2 separate regions of the Homo sapiens genome follow, and region 2 is linked to region 1. Evidence: fine-mapped expression QTL. Tissue or cell type: whole blood. Region 1 holds a variant in brackets; the other region holds the start of a gene. All regions are shown on one strand. Distances are from middle to middle.

Region 1 (11,111 bases):
CTGGGCAACAGAGGGAGACTCCATCTCAGAAAAAAAAAAAAAAGTCTGATACCATAATGTTCACTGCCATAGGGATTGAGACTTGATCATTTAGTCTTGCTTCCAGGCACAGGCCCGCACTGCCAGCCCATTGGCTACCGTCTCTAAATCAATGAAAAAGCAGCAAGGAGCATTTTGGAGGGGTTTTTCAGGAAAACCACCACTGTCCCCAACTCTGTCCACTGGGTAGTACCTTTTTTTTGTGTGCAAAATTTTAAACAGCTTTTGTTTTCCCCTGTGGCTGCACAGCTGCAAGGGCCAAGAACAATCCGCCAGCCTGTAACTTAGCGGGCTCCATCTGTGAACCAGCTTCAGGCATCCTCAGGGACTTGGTGTATCAATGCCTCCATGAAGCTGGAGGTGCTGGCACAAAATGTTCCTCTGGGATCAAGGGATGTCTGGCCATCTTGTAATGCCATTATGTGACTCTTTTGATGCCTGATGACCCCATTCTACAGAGTAGCCAGTCACTGGCACTTGTAGCTGAAAAGGATCATTAGAGCTAACTGGCCTGAGCAGAGTGCAGTCTGTACAGTCTGCCGGACACTGCTTTTTTTTTTTTTTTTTTAAGATGGAGTCTCACTCTGATGCCAGGCTGGAGTGCAGGGACTTGATCTTGGCTCACTGCAACCTCCACCTCCCGGGTTCAAGCGATTCTCCTGCCTCAGCCTCCCGAGTAGCTGGGACTACAGGCACACGCCACAATGCCCAGCTAATTTTTGTATTTTTAATAGAGATGAGGTTTCACCATGTGGCCCAGGATGATCTTGATCTCTTGACCTCGTGATCTGCCCGCCTCGGCCTCCCAAAGTGCTGCGATTACAGGCATGAGCCACTGTGCCTGGCCTGGACACTGTTCTTAAGCACGCTGGACCCTGCCAGCTCTTTTCCTCAGTGCAGTGGTCTTTTCCCCGCCTGTACTGCTTCACCCACACCACATGGCTGGGCTCAGGGAGCCCAGTGGGTCCTGGATGTGCTCTCATCCCACTAATGCTGTTCTCACTGTAGCATTTTTCCAAAGGCAACATCACTTGCCATTATGGACAGAAGTATTACATATCCTTAGAACAGGCTGTGTGTCCCTACACTGGGAAGGGTGCATGACCTTGGGTAAGACTGTTCCTGTGGGCCAAGGACATTCTTGGAAGAGGTTTCACCTGTGAATCATTAGCAGTCCATACTCTAGCAGCTCATGGAATCACTGCTTAGGTCCTGATGGGAAATTCTGAGAGGTATCCAAAGGTTCACTACACATTGTAAAGTCGTAGATGTGGAGCCCACACTGCCACCATAATTAAGGCTGCGGCAGGTCTTTCCACTACCTTCTGTGAAGCTGCCTGCTGCTAGGAGATGTGGCATGTAGTAAGCAGGAACTCCATAGCCATGGCCCATAGCTTAACATCTTTTATCATGAAAACATGCCCATGGACAAATAATTTGTATGTAAGACATCATTGCAATTGAATAAGCATTTGTAAATCTATGAATATATGGTGCTGGAGGAAGTGCTGTGGGCGGGATAAGCAAACCCATGAATATGTTTGTGTTAATCCACCTTCATTCTCCACCAACATTTGCCTCTTGCACTGACCAAATAGGTGAGGTAATAATGGTGTTATGGAAATCAGTAGCCCTGCATCTTTCAAATCTTTATGGAACTAATTTCTGCAATGTCATCAGGCACAGAATTGTTTTTTTTTTAACAACTGGTAATCAATTTATTAAAATAGTTGACTTAAGCATCTGCAATGGTAACTTCCACCTCAACTCCTGGCTCAATACTGATGGAAGTAATCTGCTTAACAATCTCAGAAGGACTGTGCAAGTCAATGAGTCGCTTGTGAATTCTCATCTGGAAATGATCCCAGGTCTTAGAATCTTCACCACAAGTAGTTTTTCTTGTAGTGATTCTCAAAGTCTTGGCAGGCATTCGAACTGGTCCTTTCACTTTGAGATTCTTTTCCTTTGCGCCTCTGATTAAGTCATCACACACCTTTTCCAGGGATTTTACATTGCGGCTTGTTAGGGTGATTCGAATTTGGTGAATGGCCACCTCCGGCTCCACGGGTGTTTTCCGGTATCCTTAAAAGCCAAGGCTGCTGCGCGGCTTCCTGACCGACTTGTTCCTCGGCGAGAGTGAACAGCGGTAAGTCAGGAGCAGGAGCGTCTGAACGAGAAATCCTCAGCACCTACGACCGCGTCTTCCTCCACAGAATTGTTTTTAGGTTATTATCTTGGTTGTAGGTGGCCCTTTCAAGGATTCTAACTGGGCATTCCCACCATGACAGACCGCATTCCTCGGATAAGGACAGCAAGGCTGGCAAAATAGCCACACGGTGTGCCTGGGATCCTACCTGACCCACTGTGAGGTGGACTCTGGCCAAGACCTGTCTATCCCCTGACCTCCCTAAGCCTCTCTCCAATTGACCATAGAGATTCCAGGGATTAGGCTCAGATAATACCAGTATCTACACATGTGGCTTCCAGTAAAATGAGCACAGACTGAGATTACAGAACCCAATTCCTGGCCCTCTCTGCTGCTAAATATCTATCAGGAAAGATCCTCCCTGAGCTTGCTTACTCATCTGTAAGTTGGAGCCAAAAATGTTCTTTGGATCGTGTGTCATTTGTGCAGATGTGATAAGATTACACACGTCAAGTGCTTTACACATTGCCTAATAAGTACCATTCACCGTTTCTTCTGCAGAGTGTAAAGAGGAAGATAAATTATCTATTACTATTTAGCAGTATTTTAATAACTTTTATGCACTTTTAATTTATTTCCAAATTTTTTCTTTTCTTTTTTTTTTCTTTTCTTTTCTTTTTTTTTTTTTTTTTTTTCAGTAGAGACAGAGACTCTCTTTGCTGCCCAGGATGGAATGCAGTGGCAGTCATAGCTCACTGAAGGCTTGAACCTCTGGGCTCAAGTGATTTTCCTGCCTCAGCTTTCTGAGTAGCTGGGACTATAAGCATGCACCACCATGCCTTACTATTTCTTTTCTCTTTTCTTTTCTTTTTTTTTTTTTTTTTTTTGAGACGGAGTCTCGCTCTGTCACCCAGGCTGGAGTGCGGTGGCTTGATCTCGGCTCACTGCAACCTCCACTTCCCAGGTCCAAGTGATTCTCCTGCCTCAACCTCCCAAGCAGCTGGGACTACAGGCGTGTGCCACCATGCTCAGCTAATTTTTGTATTTTTAGTATATTGGTCAGGCTGGTCTTGAACTCCTGACCTCGTAATCCACCCACCTTTGCCTCCCAAAGTACTGGGATTACAGGGTGAGGCACCACGCCCAGCCACCTGGCTATTTCTTAAAAAAAATTTGTAGAGATGGGGTCTTGATATGTTGCCTAGGCTCAAATTTTGTCATCTTTTAGATAACAGGATTTGGGGCTGGGTGCAGTGGTTCACACCTGTAATCCCAGCACTTGGGGAGGCCTAGGTGGGCAGATCATGAGGTCAGGAGTTCGAGACCAGCCTGGCCAATATGGTGAAACTCTATCTCTACTAAAAATGCAAAAATTAGCCGGGCATGATGGCGGGCGCCTGTAATCCCAGCTACTCAAAAGGCTGAGGTGCGAGGAGAATTGCTTGAACCCGGGAGGCAGAGGTTGCAGTGAGCTGAGATTGTGCCATTGCACTCCAGCCTGGGCGACAGAGCGAGACTCTGACTCAAAAAAAAAAAACCAAAAAAAATTTAAAAAAAAATTAAAAAACAAAACAAAACAGGATTTAGGGATAAGAATTTAGGACTAAGTCAATTTTCTATGAATATTCTTACATGTCAAATTTCGAAGGCCCAGACTCAAATGACTTGATTCTTATTTTCAAATAATTGGGCTGTAAGATTTATCTGTTACTTCTTAACATATAATTTGTACACCTGTCTAGGATTTAACTTGGAAAAGATTTTTCAAAACTTGGTACGATTATATAAAATGTGTGCTTATGACCATAGCTGGTAGGCATGTGAGATGGTAAGGCATTTCCGCAGAGCAGAGGTTCATAAAAGCTTTATCATGCATCAGAGCTATCCGGAAGGCTTTTTAAAACACAGATTGCTCAGCTGGGCGCAGTAGGGTGCGCCTGTAGTCCTAGCTACTTGGGAGGCTGAGGCAGAAGGATCTTTTGAGCCCTGGAGTTTGAGGCTACAGCATGCTATGATTGTGCCTGTGAATAGCCACTGCACTCCAGCCTGGGCGGCCTAGCAAGACCCTGTCTCTAAAACAATAACATCAACTAAAACAAAAACCACGCAGATTGCTGGACCCCAACCTAGAGTTTCTGATCCAGTAGTATTGGGGTGGGGCCTGAGAATTTGCATTTCTGACAAGTCCCCAGATGATGTTGATCCTTATTCTCCTGGCCCATAGACCACTTAATTAAAGCCAGCAAAGTAGTCATCAACGTTGACCCAGGATATAAGCTGAAGATGATGAACAGCCTTGAGGCAGTAAGGGAGGCCTGCCCTCCAACATCAGGAAGCCAAGTGAAGGCGTGACTCACCAGGGCAGGGTGGGGTTCCTGCGTGTGAGAAACCAGAATTGAGAGCTGCACCAGCTGTGTGGCCCCAGGTTTCTCAGGGTGAGGAGAGGCAGCCCAGGGGAAAGGCACTCGGGACCACACCCCAACTCACCTACCCTGTGTAAGTTTTTTCCATTGCATGTATCAACATCTAACATGTCATATATTTGATTTACCTCATTTATTCTCTGACTCCTTGCCTCCTGTTAGAATATAGGTTCTCTAGAACAAGGATTTTTATATGTTTTATAGAAGAACAGTAACTGAATCATAGCAGGTGTTCAAATACTGACTGAATGCATGCCTATATACATATAACTATGTTCATGATACTGTTTCTAGAAGGATCCACAAGAAAATGGCAGCAGACTGTCTCTGGGCAAGGGAAATGGAGGAATGGGTGGGGCAACTAAAACTTTTTACTGACTCTATAGCTCTTTGAATTTTTCCTTTTTTTTTTTTTTTTTTTGAGATGGAGTCTTGCTGTGTCACCCAGGCTGGAGTGCACTGGCGCAATCTTGGCTCACTGCAACCTCTGCCTCCGGGGTTCAAGCAATTCTCCTGTCTCAGCCTCCCGAGTAGCTGAGATTACAGGCATGCATCACCATGCCCGGCTCATTTTTGTATTTTTAGTAGGGACAGGGCGGGAGTGGGGGAGGGTTTCACCATGTTGGCCATGTTGGCCAGGCTGGTCTTGAACTCTTGACCTTGTGATCCACCCGACTCAGCCTCCCAAAGTGCTGGGATTACAGGTGTGAGCCACAGCGCCCAGCCGAATTTTTCCTATGTATCTCATCTAGCTAATCAAAAACAGATCTCTATTGTTGATTAGGAAATA[T/A]AAATTGGAAGAGAAATAGGTATAATAGGAAAAACCTGAGGGAGCCCCATTCCCCCTCCCCAAATCTGGTGAGATCATTGTGTAGAGCTAAGTGAGAACGCCTGAAATATGCTTGAAGAAACGTTCATCTTTGATGGGGCATTCAGCTCAGTCTCATGCAGCCCTACCCCAGCCCCAAACTGGGCCTGGTCCTATCCCAGGACAACCCTAGGGGGGCCCCAGAGTTCCCTCCTAGAAACCAGAAGTTCCCAGCCCTTCCTGCTGCCCACCCCACCCCATGGACACGTGCCCATGTGTCAAGTAACAACAGTTAATAGTGAAGTGGGCTAGAAACACCCTGTGGCTGCCTCAGGAAGGAGAGAATATCTCTAAGTCCAGTGAGCTCAAGGTGGAACAAGAATCCAGGTGTTCAAAGGGAAGGCAGAAGGAAATGATGAGAGAAAAGGGGGATTTGTGCTCATCTCAGCAGGAACCTGGGTTGGGGCTGAGGAACTAGGAGAAGCCATGCCCCGGGGAGCCTGGAGGAAGATGCCCAGGCCAGAGCACCAGCTTGGAATTGGGAGAGCCAGGCAGGACCCCGAGTAGACATTAGGGGTTAGCGTCTGTTAGAGGAAGTTGAGGAAGAAAAACAATAAAGTTGCCCTTCCAAACAAGACAGAAGCAGTTTCTACCGTAGGTAACCGCTGGCCTAGTTATTTATTCAATATATATTCACTGAGCACATCGTCGTGCTAGGCCCTATGTCAGAAAAGGGATTTTGGGGCCAGGCACGGTGGCTCATGCCTATAATCCCAGCACTTTGGGAGGCTGATATTGGCAGATCGCCTGAGGTCAGGAGTTCAAAACCAGCCTGGCCAACGTAGTAAAACCCTGTCTCTAGGAAAAACACAAAAATTAGCTGGGCATGGTGGCTGGTGCCTGTAGTCCCAGCTACTCCGGAGGCTGAGGCAGGAGAATCACTTGAACCCAGGAGGCGGAAGTTGCAGTGAGCTGAAATTGCACCACTGCACTCCAGCCTGGGTGACAGAGCGAGATTCTGTCTCAAAACAAAAAAGAAAAAAGAAAGGGATTTTAATTAAATGCAGACTTACAGGACCTGAGACTACCTTCCTAGAGACTGAGTCTTCTTTGGAAGGCGGCAGGGATGCAGCAGCCCACAATCAAGCCATTCCCACCTCACGAATGTGGAGAATCTGAGAGGGGGTGCCTCCTTCCCCTGTGGGATTTTCTGTGGTCTCAGACCCCACAGCAGCTTCTATGCTCACCCAGCAGAGGGCAGCCTGAGCTCAGGCGCCATCTTCCCAGCACCTGCTTAGGAGACGGGACAGATGGGCACCTAGCCCCCTCACTGCCCACTGCAGGGTGGGCATGGTGCCCACTTGCTGGTGGCAGCAGCACCAGAGAAACAGGATGCACCAGGAGGCTGTAAAAAAAGGCTGTTTTTGAGTTCTCCCTAAGCCGTGATGGTGCTGCCTGGCAGATGCTCGGCCCTGGCATGCTGCCACACTCACCCTCTGTAGCATCCTGAGACTAAGGATCATCTCCTTCTCATTCCAGAGCAGCCTGCTCACCCTGCTTCTACTCCCTGTTTCTCCGAGGCATAGAATCCTCGGGAGGGACCCCAGAGCTGGAAGGGACTTGGTTGCTGCTAGTGCTGGAGTTGCCATTTCAAATAACTTCAAAGGGCAGGCAGGGAGCCTGAATTTGTGAAGCTGACTTAGGGTAAGATGGCAGGAAATGGTAGTGGCTATGCCGAACTGGAGAAAAGAGCCTTGTGCAAAGGCACCTAAATTGAATTGTTTTTCTAACTGTGAGTAAGATAAAATGCAGCCACAGGCTGAGTTGGGACATGAGTTGGCTGCCAGTTTCCTCCCTGTCCAGTTCACCCCTTAACCTTCGAGATGGGCAAACAAAGGTCCAGAGAGGGCCCAAGATAGGGCCTGATTCCCTTCTCACCAGAATCCAGTTCTGTAGTGCTGTTTATTCCTTGGGGGCACAGGGCAAATATTAAGCACAAAGAGTTGGGGGTGGTGTGGACGTCTAGCTCTGCCTGCCCCACGGCTGCTGATCAGTCTTGGATTGCTTCATTTCCTTCCTTGGCCACAGATCTCCTGTTTGGAGAAAGCAGCCTCCTCCAGAATACAGGGCACTCCTTTTCCTCAGAGTGAGTCACAGCCTCCGAGCAGACTTGTGGACAGCTTACTCCGAGACAGAATTCTCCACTCCCACTGCTTTTTCCAATGAATACCTCCAGCGGTGGGCCTCCACTGCCTTGGGCCACCGCCCTAGGGCTGCGAACTTTAATTTACTCAGGTTTTTCCCTCCTTAAAAAGAGGTCCTACAGAGAAACACCCAGGGGTCTTTTGGCCTTGATTCTTCAGATCTCATTTAAAAAAAATAGATAGATAGATAGATAGATAGATAGATAGATAGATAGATAGATAGATAGATAGATGGATGGATGGATAGATAGATAGATTAGAAGCATAAAGTGCTGTTTTCTCATAAGGTGTGAAGGTTGCAGGAGTGTGGCTGGTACTTGTCGTGGCTCTGCAAGCACCAAGAGTGGTTCTTCAGAAATCCAGGCTTGTACCTGAATTGCCTCCATCTCCAGGAGAATCAGCAGGCCATGCTGAGCTTGATGGGGATGCTTCACTAGGGCAGGAAACCTGAACCTCAGTCTCCTGGGTAGCAGGAACTGGGTTGTGGCCCCATTACCAATCATAGAGACACCTTTGGGACCTGGGGTAAGTATTTATGATATAGCTAGTCATGTGAAGAATGAGGGGAGGATTAGGACACAACTAAGGCCACTGTCACAGAGCTCCTGCCCGCCTAGCACCTCCCAACCTCCCAACCAACATGTGCAAAAGATGGCCAGAGTCCTGAAAAACTGGTCTCGAAAGGACATTGTCTCAAGTATACCTTTGAGAGGAGGAAACAGAACATTTAGTTTTTTTTTTTTTTTTTTTTTTTTTGAGACGGAGTCTCGCTCTATTGCCCAGGCTGGAGTGCCATGGTGTGATCTCGGCTCACTTCAAGCTCCGCTTCCCGGGTTCATGCCATTCTCCTGACTCAGCCTCCCGAGTAGCTGGGACTATAGGTGCCCGCCACCATGCCCGGCTAATTTTTTGTATTTTTAGTGGAGAGGGGTTTCACTGTGTTAGCCAGGATGGTCTTGATCTCCTGACCTCGTGATCCACCTGCCTTGGCCTCCCAAAATGCTGGGATTACAGGCGTGAGCCACCAGGCCGGCCACATTTACCTATTTGTTCAAGGAAAAAGAAACAGAAAAAGAAAAAAACAGAGATGGATGAGATTAGCTACCTGCAGGGCATGGTAGGAACAGGATGGAAATAAAGGGAATGAGGGGGAATGAGACTTCTAGGAATATCTCTTTTTGTTTATTTTATTTTATTTTTAGCAGAGATGTGGGTTCCTTATGTTGCCCAGCTGGTCTTGAACTCCTGGGCTCCAGCTATCCTCCTGCCTCCATCTCCCAAAGTGCTGGGATTACAGGTGTGAGCTACCGCACCCGATCCTCTTTTTGTTCTGAACTGACTTTTAAAATCATTTTAATATTTCACATCTCAAAAATAAATACAAATAAAACTCACAAGGACAGGGAAAACGCTAAAGTTGAACACAAGCAGAAACAAGCAAATAAAATGTACCCTTTGACTTCTATCTTACCACTTTGTAGTAAAAATAACTAATCCCAGTAACATGTTAAACTTTTTCTAGTTTAACCCTTGCAGCATCCCTAAATGGTAGGTACGATGACTAGTCTAGTTTTACAAAAGGGGAATTGCCCTTTAGGAAGGAGGCAAAGGAAGCTCCCAAGCTCCCAGGGACTTGAACTCAGATTTTGCACCAGATTTATATTAGATCTCAATTCCGAAATCCTATTACATCCTCAGCTCTGAGCCAGGCACAGAAGGATGATTTAGTGTCTCTGAGTTCCAAGAATCTACAACACTTAAAATCTCAGTGACAAACATTTAACATCCTGAGGTTATACATAAGGGAATGAATAATTCCTTTATGATTCATAAAGATTTAAAGACCAGGCCGAGCATGGTGGCTTACGCCTGTAATTCCAGCATTTTGGGAGGCCGAGGTGGCTGGATCACAAGGTCAGGAGTTCGAGACCAGTCTGGCCAACATGGTGAAACGCTGTTTCTACTAAAAATTCAAAAAATGAGCTGGGCATGATGGCGGGTGCCTGTAATCCCAGCTACTCGGGAGGCTGAGGCAGGAGAATCTCTTGAACCCAGGTGGCAGAAGTTGCAGTGAGCCAAGATCACACCACTGCACTCCAGCCCTGGTAACAGTGCGAGACTCTGTCTCAAAAACAAAACAAAACAAAAAGATTTAAAGACCAAAAAGATTTTAGGAATTCTGGGCACTCTGTGTGGGCTGCTTTCTTGGAGGATATAGGATTTTAGGTAGGTATAGAAAAGGAGACAGAGAATTCCGGAGAGCAGAAGACACTTGGGGCAAAGGGTTAAAAGGGGCTTGGCGTGTTAAGAGCAAAGGAGACCGGCTTCTGCATGGGAACGAACAACACAGAAGGACGTCCGTCACGCTGCTGGATGACTCTTAATATAAGAGTTCCAAGTCAAGGCGAACATCATGGAAGGAAGAAGTCCACAATGAGGCTGGGGTGAGGTTGGTAAATTCCAGTCCCTAACTTTAGCCCTTAGACAGCTACATTTAGATATTGGATATTTGCCACCCCTTTCAATTACTGGGCTCCAAGAGATTACCTAGGAGAAGGCAGACTCTATATTCTGGATCTGCGACTAAAAAATGTTTTTGCACAAAACGTTTGCTCCTTTAGTTGTTTTTGCTTTTCTCTTTTGTCTCTACTTTCTAAGCCACTCCCTGTTTGCTGAGCTGAAAAGCAAGTTCTCAGCCCTGCTGTCTCTTTCTAAAGCCAGCTTGCCTGTAGCCCCCAGGGGTGAGGAGAGGTGTTAGAAGAAAACACTTCTCCCCTTCTGGGTCCCTTCCGCAGCTGGAGTTGGTGCACAGTGGGGATAATGAGAAAAAATAGGAAAGCAAAAAGGCTTTGTGGGAAAGGAAGGTGGCCACATACCAACGCTGGGTCTAGCTGGAGGGCAAGCAGGAAACATGAACAAAATGAAAACATGGAGAATTCCTATCAGACCACTGCTTCACGGCATCCTAAGTTTTAATCAGGACGAATGTTCAGATAAACCCAAAAAATCCTTGAAACGAGGACAAATGCAACATTTGGCCCTCAAGTCGCTGCCTCCCATTGTCATCCCCTTTTGAAACAACAAAAAATATCACACATGTCTGACCTGCCTGGCCAACATGGTGAAACCCTGCCTCTACTAAAAGTACAAAAATTAGCCGGGTATAGTGGCAGGTGCCTGTAATCCCAGCTACTCGGGAGAGGCTGAGGCAGCAGAATTGCTTGAATCTGGAAGGCGGAGGTTGCAGTGAGCTGAGATTGTGCCACTGTGTGTGTGTGTGTGTGTGTGTGTGTGTGTGTGTGTGTGGTGTATACACACACACACACATATATATCTCCCACATCTCCCACAAGATAAAGTCAATATCTGGTCCGCTTTGATCGTTTCCTCCCTGTCATCATTGCCCCTGTGTCCCTCCTGGCACCTCTGCCCAAGCCTGGTCCAGCAGCCCCTTGCCCTGGATTCCCACACCAGGCTACAGCTGTCCATCC
Region 2 (9,031 bases), 41 kb before region 1:
AGTGATATCTCATTGTGGCTTTAATTTGCATTTCTCTAATGGCTGAAAATGTTGAACATCTCTTCATGTGTTTATTTGCCATCTGTGTATCTTCAGTGAAATGTCTGCTGTTCATTTTTTAATTGGATTGTTTGTCTTCTTACTGTTGAATTTCAAGACTTCATTATATATTCCAGATATAAAGCCTTTGTCATACAAGTGCTTTGCAAATATTTTCTCCCAGTTCATAGTTTGTCTTTTCATCCTCTTCACAGGTATTTTGCAGAGAAACAAATTTAAATTTTGATGAAGCCCAATTGACAGGTTTTTGGTGTTGTGTCTAAGAACTCTTCACCTAGCCCAAAGATTTTCTCATATGTTATTTTCTAAAGGTTTTATAGTTTTATGCTTTATATTTAAATCTATGATCCATTTTCCACTTAAGAGTTCATTTTTGTACAAAGTGTAAGGTTTAGATCAAGATTTTTTTTTTTTTTTTTTTTTTTTTTTTTGCCAATAGATATCCAATTGCTCCAGGACTGTTACTTGAAAACGATCCTTTCTCTATTGAATTACTTCTGCACTTCTGTCAAAAATCAGATGGCCATAGGCCGGGTGCACTGGCTCACGCCTGTAATCCCTGCACTTTGAGAAGCTGAAGTGGGATGATTGCTTGAGCCCAGGAGTTTGAGACCAGCCTGGGCAACACAGCCAGACCCCATCTCTACTAAAAAAATTAGCCAGGCATGGTGGTGTGCACCTGTAGTCCCAGCTCCCCAGGAGGCTGAGGTGGGAGTATCGTCTAAGCCTGGGAGTCGAGGCTGCAGTGAGCCGTGATCACGCCACTGCACTCCAGCTGGAGTGACAGGGTTTAAATCAGATGGCCATACTTGTGCGGGGCTAATTTATTTTGTATTATTTCATTTTTATCTCCTTTGTTGGCTTATTAACCCTACCTCCATTTTCATTTTTTGTTGTTTCTCTTAAAATTTCTAGTGTACATCTTTAGACTTGTCACACTTTTATGTAATATTCTACCACTTCACAGGTAGTAGAACAACTTAGCAACAGCACACACTTTCCTGTCTCTTGGCCTTTGTGCTATTTTGTCATAAGAGTTATATTTACTGTATCTGGAGATCTTGATTTCATATGCCAGATTTCCATTTTCCTTCGAACTGAGAGCTTGCTTCAGTGTTTCTGAGCTTACTTAGGTGAGACCAGAGCGGCCATTAGGGCTAATTTTGCCTCACTAGACAGGCAGTATCTTTGAGTAGTTTAGCCAGTGCACAGTGATGGTCTCCACTATGGCTCCGGGGATTGCTCTGCCTGCACCTTCCTGGTAGTTCCCTTGGTTTCCAGGAGTGTGTTCACAGGCATGCTGTGCGCTACACGTGCAGGAAACCCTTTGCAGGTCTGTGCTGCGCTACTCTCTGGTACCCTGCCTTACAAACTAGCTGCCTTGGCCTCTCCAAATTCTCAACTTTGTCCCAACTCAGGGACACCCCTGGGCTATGTAGCCTAGAAACTAACTCTCCAGACATAAGCCGGGCCACTAAGGTCACTTCATTTGTCTCCTTTCTCTTGGGGACCACTGTGCTACAATGCTTGTTTCCAATGTCTGAACTCTGTTGTCTCCTATTTTGTCCAGATTTTTTAGTTGTTGATGTTTGAAGGATAAATCTACTACCTATGACATCACCACACCCGGGTAACTTTTGTACTTTTTGTAGAGACAGAATTTCGCCATGTTGCCCAGGCTGATCTCAAACTCCTGGGCTCAAGCAGTCTGGCCACCTCAGTTTCCCAAAGTGCTGAGATTTATAGGCATGAGCCACTGTACTTGGCCTATGTTTCTAACGCAGAAGCCACCACCGTATGCCACACCTGTGACTCTTTCCCATATTTGTTGTAGTAAAAGGGACTGCAGGCCAGGCGCTGTGGCTCATACCTGTAATCTCAGCACTTTGGGAGGCCGACATGGGCGGATCACGAGGTCAGGACTTTGAGACCAGCCTGGCCAATATGATGGAACCCCGTCTCTACTAAAAATACAAAAATTAGCCTGGCGTGGTGGTGCGCACCTGTAGTCCCAGCTATTTGGGAGGCTGAGGCAGAAGAATCGCTTGAACCCGGGAGGTGGAGGTTGCAGTAAGCCGAGATTGTGCCACTGCATTCCAGCCTGGGTGACAAAGCGAGATGCTGTCTCAAAAAATAAATAAAAATAAATAAATAAATAAAAGAGGCTGCAGTACATGACACACTGGCAGCACCAACTCCTGCCTGGTGGATGACATCTATCTTTAGACATCCCCACTCCAGGGTTGCTGGGGGTCCATCACCATTGTTGACACTTCTTACAGGTTATGATGTTATCATCAGTCCCAGTGCTATCAGTCAACTCTACAATCCTAGGTAGTCGTTGAATCTACAGTTGACCCTTAAACAATGCAGTAGAAAATCCACATATAACTTTTGACTCCCCCAAAACTTAACTATTAATAGCCTACTGTCGATCTGAAGTCTTACTGATGACATAGATGAACACATATTTTGTATGTTATATGCATTATATACTGTATTCTTGCAATAGTAAAGTAGAGAGAAGAAACTGTTATTAAGGAAATCGTAAGGAAGATAAAATATACTATTCATTAAGTGGAAGTGGATCATCATAAAGGCCTTCATCCTTGTCCTTTTCACATTGAGTAGGCTGAGGAGAGGAAGGGGGGTTGGTCTTGCTGTCTCAGAGTGACAGCGGCAGAAGAAAATCTGAGTATAAGTGGACCAGTACAGTTTAAATCCATGTTGTTCAAGGGTGAACTGTAAACTGTTTGATTTAATGGGCAACCCACGCACCCAAGTGGTTATAAGTGGTACTACAAAATGTATTATAAAAATACCGTAGAATTTTTTTTTTTTTTTTGAGACAGAGTCATGCTCTGTCACCCAGGCTGGAGTGCAGTGGTGTGGTCTCGGCTCACTACAACCTCCGCAGCAATTCTCGTGCCTCAACCTCCTGAGTAGCTCCAGGACTACAGGTGCCTGCCACCATCCCTGGCTAATTTTTTGTATTTTTTGTAGAGACACGGTTTCACCATGTTAGCCAGGCTGGTCTCGAACTCCTGACCTCAAGCGATTCGCCCACCTCGACCTCCCAAAGTGCTGGGATTACAGGCGTGAGCCACTGCACCCAGCTGAACACAATCTGTACCTTCCATGTACTGATTTATGTCTTTGTCTGTAACTCCTGTCCACCTAAAATGTACAAAACCAAACTGTAATTCTACTGTCTCAGGCACACTTTCTCAGGACCTCTTGAGCCTGTGTTCCCCAGGCCATGGTCACTCATATTGGCTCAAAATAAATCTCTTTAAAACATTTCAGTTTGGTTTTTCTGTTAACAGGTGGTTAATTTTTCCTAGTTCTTTAATGAGATCCCTAGAAACCGGGTTTAAGACAATTGATTTTTTTTTTTTGCTTTCTCGGTCAGATAATTTCAGAAACTCCCTCCCTGTGCACCTGTGGGCATTCCCACTTCCACACACCAACAAGACAAGGTTAGACAGATCTTCTAAGGCAGCTTCTAAGGCCTTTCAGCATGTCAAAATGCATCTTTGGGGTATCCGTTTCTGAGTACCAACAAGGGAACGGAATGGGTTAAGATTTCATTCTCTCAGTAGAGGAAAATCTAGGGATTCATTCTACATTTGAAGCCAAAAACAGTTATCTGACTCCTTCCAGAGCCTTTAAATGTTGATCCCTTCCCCTCTTCTCCCATCAAACATACACTTGGAAGTTTAAGAAGAATGGAGGGATCTCAAGGTGTAAAGTTTTCTTTCTGTGCGATGACCAGTGCTGGTCCTCGGATGTCAACTGCCAACCAGGGTAGCTCATGGTTACAACCTCCCGTACAGCTCTCACTTATCCAGAACTACTGAGGCTCCAAGCTCAGTATCAAACTGTTCACTTGCACTATGTCCTCTATGATGTCACTGTCATCATCATTTTACAGACACACTGCGACTCCAAGTGGTCGTTACTAGTTCACAATCAAGTAGCTCTCGTTCATCTTCTCGTTCATCTTCAACTCTATGATTAACTGCAAAATGTTCTGCTCATTTTGACTAGAGTCTTGAAAGATCTGCAAACGAAACGGCAGGACTGATGCTCAGTTCTCTGACCAGGGGATATCCAGTCTCTTATGTGGGGAAACTCACGCCCAGGTCTAACCTCACACTTTTAAGACAGATGAGAAGGAAGGGGGAAATGTTGCTACATTAGGAGGAATTAATTACAAAGAGAGGAAGTAACTAGCTTGATAGTCTCATGGAGTCAGGATTAAACGCCATGTCTGTCCTGGCGTACGCTAAGGGATGGGGAAACGTCTGGGTCCCAGGCTGGGTAAATGGCAGGCCCAAGCCGAATTAGTTCGGCTCTTGGTTTGACTCCCTCTTCCCTCCTGTTCCAAGCGCTCGCATGAACCTGGGTGCCAGGGGGATTATCAGCGTCTGCGCAAGGCCGATGGTGGCAGCGCGGCGTTAGGAATCAGGCCCCCTATCCCTGAGCCCAACAGCCTACCGCTACAGCACCCAACGAAAATGGGAACAACATGTTGAGACGCTGCAGCAACAGCAGGCGCTTCCCACCAGCTACAGTCGGAGATTTGGAGCGCTTGTGTCTGAGGCTCAATCCCGTCAGGTGCCGCGCAACTCAGCGGCGCATTCTCTTTGGACCCGAGGCACCACCATACTTTCCATTGCTTACTTCCGTTAAACCCCGAGCGCTGCCATGGCAAGCCGGAAATAGGGATGAAGCAATTTAGCCAGAAGAGGGCGGAAGTGGCTACTCAGGGCGCCGCCATGACGAGCCGGGCCGGAAGAAGAGGTAGGGCGCCGCCGTGACAGATTAGTCCTAAAGGGAACGGGGTTGTTAGTTCAATTGGCTACCGGAAAAAACCAGGCTGGGCTGGGCGCCGCCATGACAACCGATACCGGAAAAGGCGGGTCGTTCCCCCCGGACAGCCCTACGCCGGCAAAGGTCTCGAGATGTGAGTAGTGAGAGCGCCTACCCCATACGTGCTGCCGCTCCCCTTCTTTTACCCAGTGATCTAGACCTAGTCTAGGACCTCGGGAACTAGGACCAGCCTCCCTCCTTCTTGGAGATCTGACCCTCAGGATTCAGCGCCTTCGCTCACGAGCTCCAACCCTCCGCATGCCCAAGCCCCGCCCTCTAAGCGTTTAGGCCTCGCCCCCTCTCGCGCTGCTTAGGACTTCGGTCCAGTCACTCTTCACCCAATCTCTGCCCCCAGTACCCCAGGTCCGGCCTTCACACTGAAATCCTAAGACTACAGACTTATTTAGGGACCTCTATGACTCCTACACCCATCCTCAGAGCTCCAGGTTCCTCCCCCTTGATCACCAAACTTTACCTTTTGAACCTTCCAGATCTGCCTGGGACCCCAGTCCTCACCTATAGGGTCCACAGACTTGTTCCTAGACCACTCTGACCTTGCCCAGGATTCCCAGAGCACCAACCTCATCCAGGGCTTCCAGACTTCACGCCCCTGGGACCTTGAGTCCCGCACCAGGGCCTTAGGTTTCATCTTGAAGACTCTTTGGCTAAGACACTCTTCCCCAGGACCTGAGACCCCACCTCTTGGAGCTCTAAACCTCACTTTTAGAACCCCCAAACCCATTAAGGGCTCTCAAGCTCTCCCTGGAATTCTAGATCTTTCTTCTAAGGCCCCAAGTCTTCTGTGCATGATCCCCAGGCCTACTGGGGGATGCCTGGATTTCAAGGCCTGTCTTCTAGGACCCTGAAGGCCTACCTTACATTAATCAGACTTTGTTTTAGAACCTCCACTCTCTCCCCAGAAGCTCCCCTCCTGCTTTACAAGCCCCAGGGCTGGGCCTCACCTCTCCACTTCTTTGGCACCATCTCAGGATCCTTCAGATTCCCACATCTGCCCTGAACTCCTAGTCCTACTTCAGACCCAGACCAGAACTCCCTTTCTTTGCGGAGCACCATAGCTTATGCCTGTAATCCTAGCACTTTGGGAGGTCTAAGCAGGGGGATCGCTTGAGCCCAGGGGTTCAATACCAGCCTCGGCAACATAGCAAGACCCTGTCTCTACAAAACATAAAAAATTAGCTGGGCATGGTGGCTCATGCCTGTGGTCCCAGCTACTTAGGAGGTTGGGGCAGGAAGATCACTTGAATCCAGGAGTTGGTGGCTACAGTGAGCTATGATCGTGCCACTGCACTCCAGCCTGGGCCACAGTGAGACCCTGTCTCTAAAAAATAAAAAAAAAAAAAAGAATTCCCTTGCTTGCCTACTGCCTGGAATGATCCTCAGCCCATCCTGTCCCACAGGCAGGCGGCCCTAGAGGTCACCGCTCGCTACTGTGGCCGGGAGCTGGAGCAGTATGGCCAGTGTGTGGCGGCCAAGCCGGAATCCTGGCAGCGGGACTGTCACTACCTTAAGATGAGCATTGCCCAGTGCACATCCTCCCAGTGAGTGCGGGCAAGTATGAGACAGTGTGGGGGGTGGGCAGTGGGGTGGGAATCTCCCAGGGGCTGAACTGCCCTACCCCCACAGCCCAATCATCCGCCAGATCCGCCAGGCCTGTGCTCAGCCTTTTGAGGCCTTCGAGGAGTGTCTTCGACAGAACGAGGCAGCTGTGGGCAACTGTGCAGAGCATATGCGCCGCTTCCTGCAGTGCGCTGAGCAGGTGCAGCCGCCACGCTCACCTGCAACTGTGGAGGTAAGAGGGGCTCACCTCAGTTCATCTCTTTTCTCCATAACATCCCCTTCATCCTTCTGGTTGTTCAGGGTAAAGACTTTGGAGTCATCCTCAGCCCCACCCCATCACCACACAGGCCTTTGCCATGCATCCAGAATCCAGAACATCATCACTTCTTGCCCCATATAGCCCCTGCTTTAATCCACCACCACCCTCACCCTCCACCTCCAGGATACCTGCCCCAGCCTTCTCCCTGGTCTCCCTTCCTCCCTCTTTTCTTGCCTCCATAAAGCGGCCTGGGTGAGCATGTAAGGACTGAAATCTGGTCTCATCACACCTATGCTTAAAGCTCTCCAGTGGCTTTGTGTCACATTGAGAACAAAAGTCCAGGTCCTTGCTGGGTTCTCTGTGTTCTTCCCTAGGCTGACTTCATCTGCCTCCTGCCTCACCCTCTCTCTTCTTTCTCACTACTCCTCATCTGCAACTGCAGAGGGGCTGGGCTGGGGTGGCCAAAAAAAGGTCACTCTTTTAAATGTATCTAATATGTAAACCAGATATACAGTATATCTGTGATATGTAAGTTTCATGGTTGGGCAATTAGAACAAAAGTCTAAAATGACTCCTTGAGGAGAGGCAGTAACGGAAAAAGGTTGAAAAATGCTCTTTTAGATGTTTACTACCCTCCTCACTGGACTGTGAGCTCCAAAGGTGAAAGTCACATCTTTCCCCAGCCCCTGTGAGTACCCTCTCCTGGGGCCCTCTCTCTGCCCCTGCAGCCCTGGCTTCTCTCTTGGGCCACCTGGCCATCCTTCTCCTGGGCCCCATGCTCCATCTTGACTTTCCAGTCATTCTTGGTGATCATCCTAGACTGATCTCAGAGGAAATCTGACCATGTTCTGCTTCTACTTACAAACCTTTCCATGGTTCTCAATTCCACCAGCCCAAGTCTTAATGCCAGCACAGCCCACAGGGCCCTGTGGGATGCAGTCCCTGCGACCCGTGGTCCCACCTCTCCTCTCTTTCCCCCTTAAGCTCTATGTTCCAGCCCCAGTGAACATGCAGTTACTCAAGTGCACGTCTCCGCTGCTTTTGTCCAGCTGTTTCCCTCTGCTGGGACTGCCCTTCCTAATCCATCTCCTGGCTAATTCCTATTCCAGCTTAGACGGCACGTCTCTCAGAAAACCTCCCTGATGTCCCACCCACTTCCCGCCCCTGTCTTCAAGTTCCCAAGGTCCCTGAGCCCCTCCATCAAGGCTCACATCCTATGCCTGTGTCAAGGGAGCTCTTGGCTGAAGATTGGGGTGATGCCCTTCTTACCAGGCCCTATAGGCATTAATTGTTTCTGTAAGGCAAGGATAAGTGAATAGTTCAGACCCCTAGGGCAGAAACTACGACCCCTGAGAGCCGGAAGGAACTTAATTCTCCTCAGGAAACGTTACCTAACGATCACATACTGTTCTCAGTCAGCTGCTGGGGACATTTCTGTCTTTCAAGTTTTTTGGGCATCTGAACAGTAAAGACCCCATCCTCCTATCTTAGAGCCATTTGCTGCTTCCCTCCCTGGACCAGCAACCAGCCTCTCTCTGGTCTCCTTGTGGCCACCCCTGCCCTGACAGTCTTCTCTTCCCTGGCAGCCAAAGAAGCTTTTAAAAATGGGAATTAGGGCCGGGTGCGGTGGCACATGCCTGTAATCCCAGCACTTGGGGAGGCCGAGGTGGGTGGATCACCTGAGGTCAGGAGTTTGAGACCAGCCTGGCCAACATGGTGAAACCCCATCTCTACTAAAAATACAAATATTAGCCAGGTGTGGTGGCAGGTACCTGTAATCCCAGCTACTTGGGAGGCTGAGGCAGGAGAATTGCTTGAACCCAGGAGGCAGAGGTTGCAGTGAGCCAAGATTGCACCATTGCACTCTAGCCTGGGCGATAGAGCGAGACTCTGTCTTCCAAAAAAAAAAAAAAAAGGGAATTAGGTCACATCTCCTCATCATCCCCTCCTTCCTGGGGATGGCATCCCAGTTACAGTTTTTCCTTCCTAGCTAGGGGCAGTGAGATTTGTTGTCTGGTCTACACAATAGCGAACACAAACATTCTCATCTCCTGCAGCATGGCATACAGACTTTACAGAATGTCCTGTGTTTTTGTGGCTGACAATCAAAGTGGTACATGTCCCTCCCATTCCGCACACACCTCTGCTCTTTACCCTGATTAAATTTTCTTCATCGAATTTCTTGGATGTTGACATATTTATTGTCCGTCTCTCCCTGCTTGAGTCAGAGAGTTTTGCCTGCTGGGTACACGGCAGGTG

The links. PIP is the estimated chance that this variant, and not a neighbour inherited with it, causes the effect.
Region 2: CHCHD5 starts here. The variant in region 1 is fine-mapped to the expression of CHCHD5 in whole blood (TOPMed, PIP 0.93).

What each region holds. Positions count from the first base shown.
Region 1 is chr2:112,620,035-112,631,145 of GRCh38, forward strand. It overlaps the pseudogene RPS20P11. Among named protein-coding and RNA genes, the nearest start is that of SLC20A1-DT, 19 kb to the right of the region's middle. RefSeq lists enhancers at 4,446-4,585, 10,616-11,111. The variant T/A (reference allele first, on the strand shown) is at 5,399.
Region 2 is chr2:112,579,621-112,588,651 of GRCh38, forward strand. It overlaps CHCHD5 (coiled-coil-helix-coiled-coil-helix domain containing 5), which reads left to right and starts at 4,989. Exons shown (of 4, transcript NM_032309.4): 1 at 4,989-5,029; 2 at 6,354-6,494; 3 at 6,580-6,745. The coding sequence starts at 5,028. It overlaps POLR1B (RNA polymerase I subunit B), which reads left to right. Exons shown (of 15, transcript NM_019014.6): 15 at 1-198. It overlaps LOC101927330 (a long non-coding RNA gene), which reads right to left and starts at 5,652. Exons shown (of 2, transcript XR_923204.3): 1 at 5,517-5,652; 2 at 3,367-4,893. RefSeq lists a silencer at 2,672-2,966 and enhancers at 4,198-5,397, 4,664-5,415, 4,713-4,882.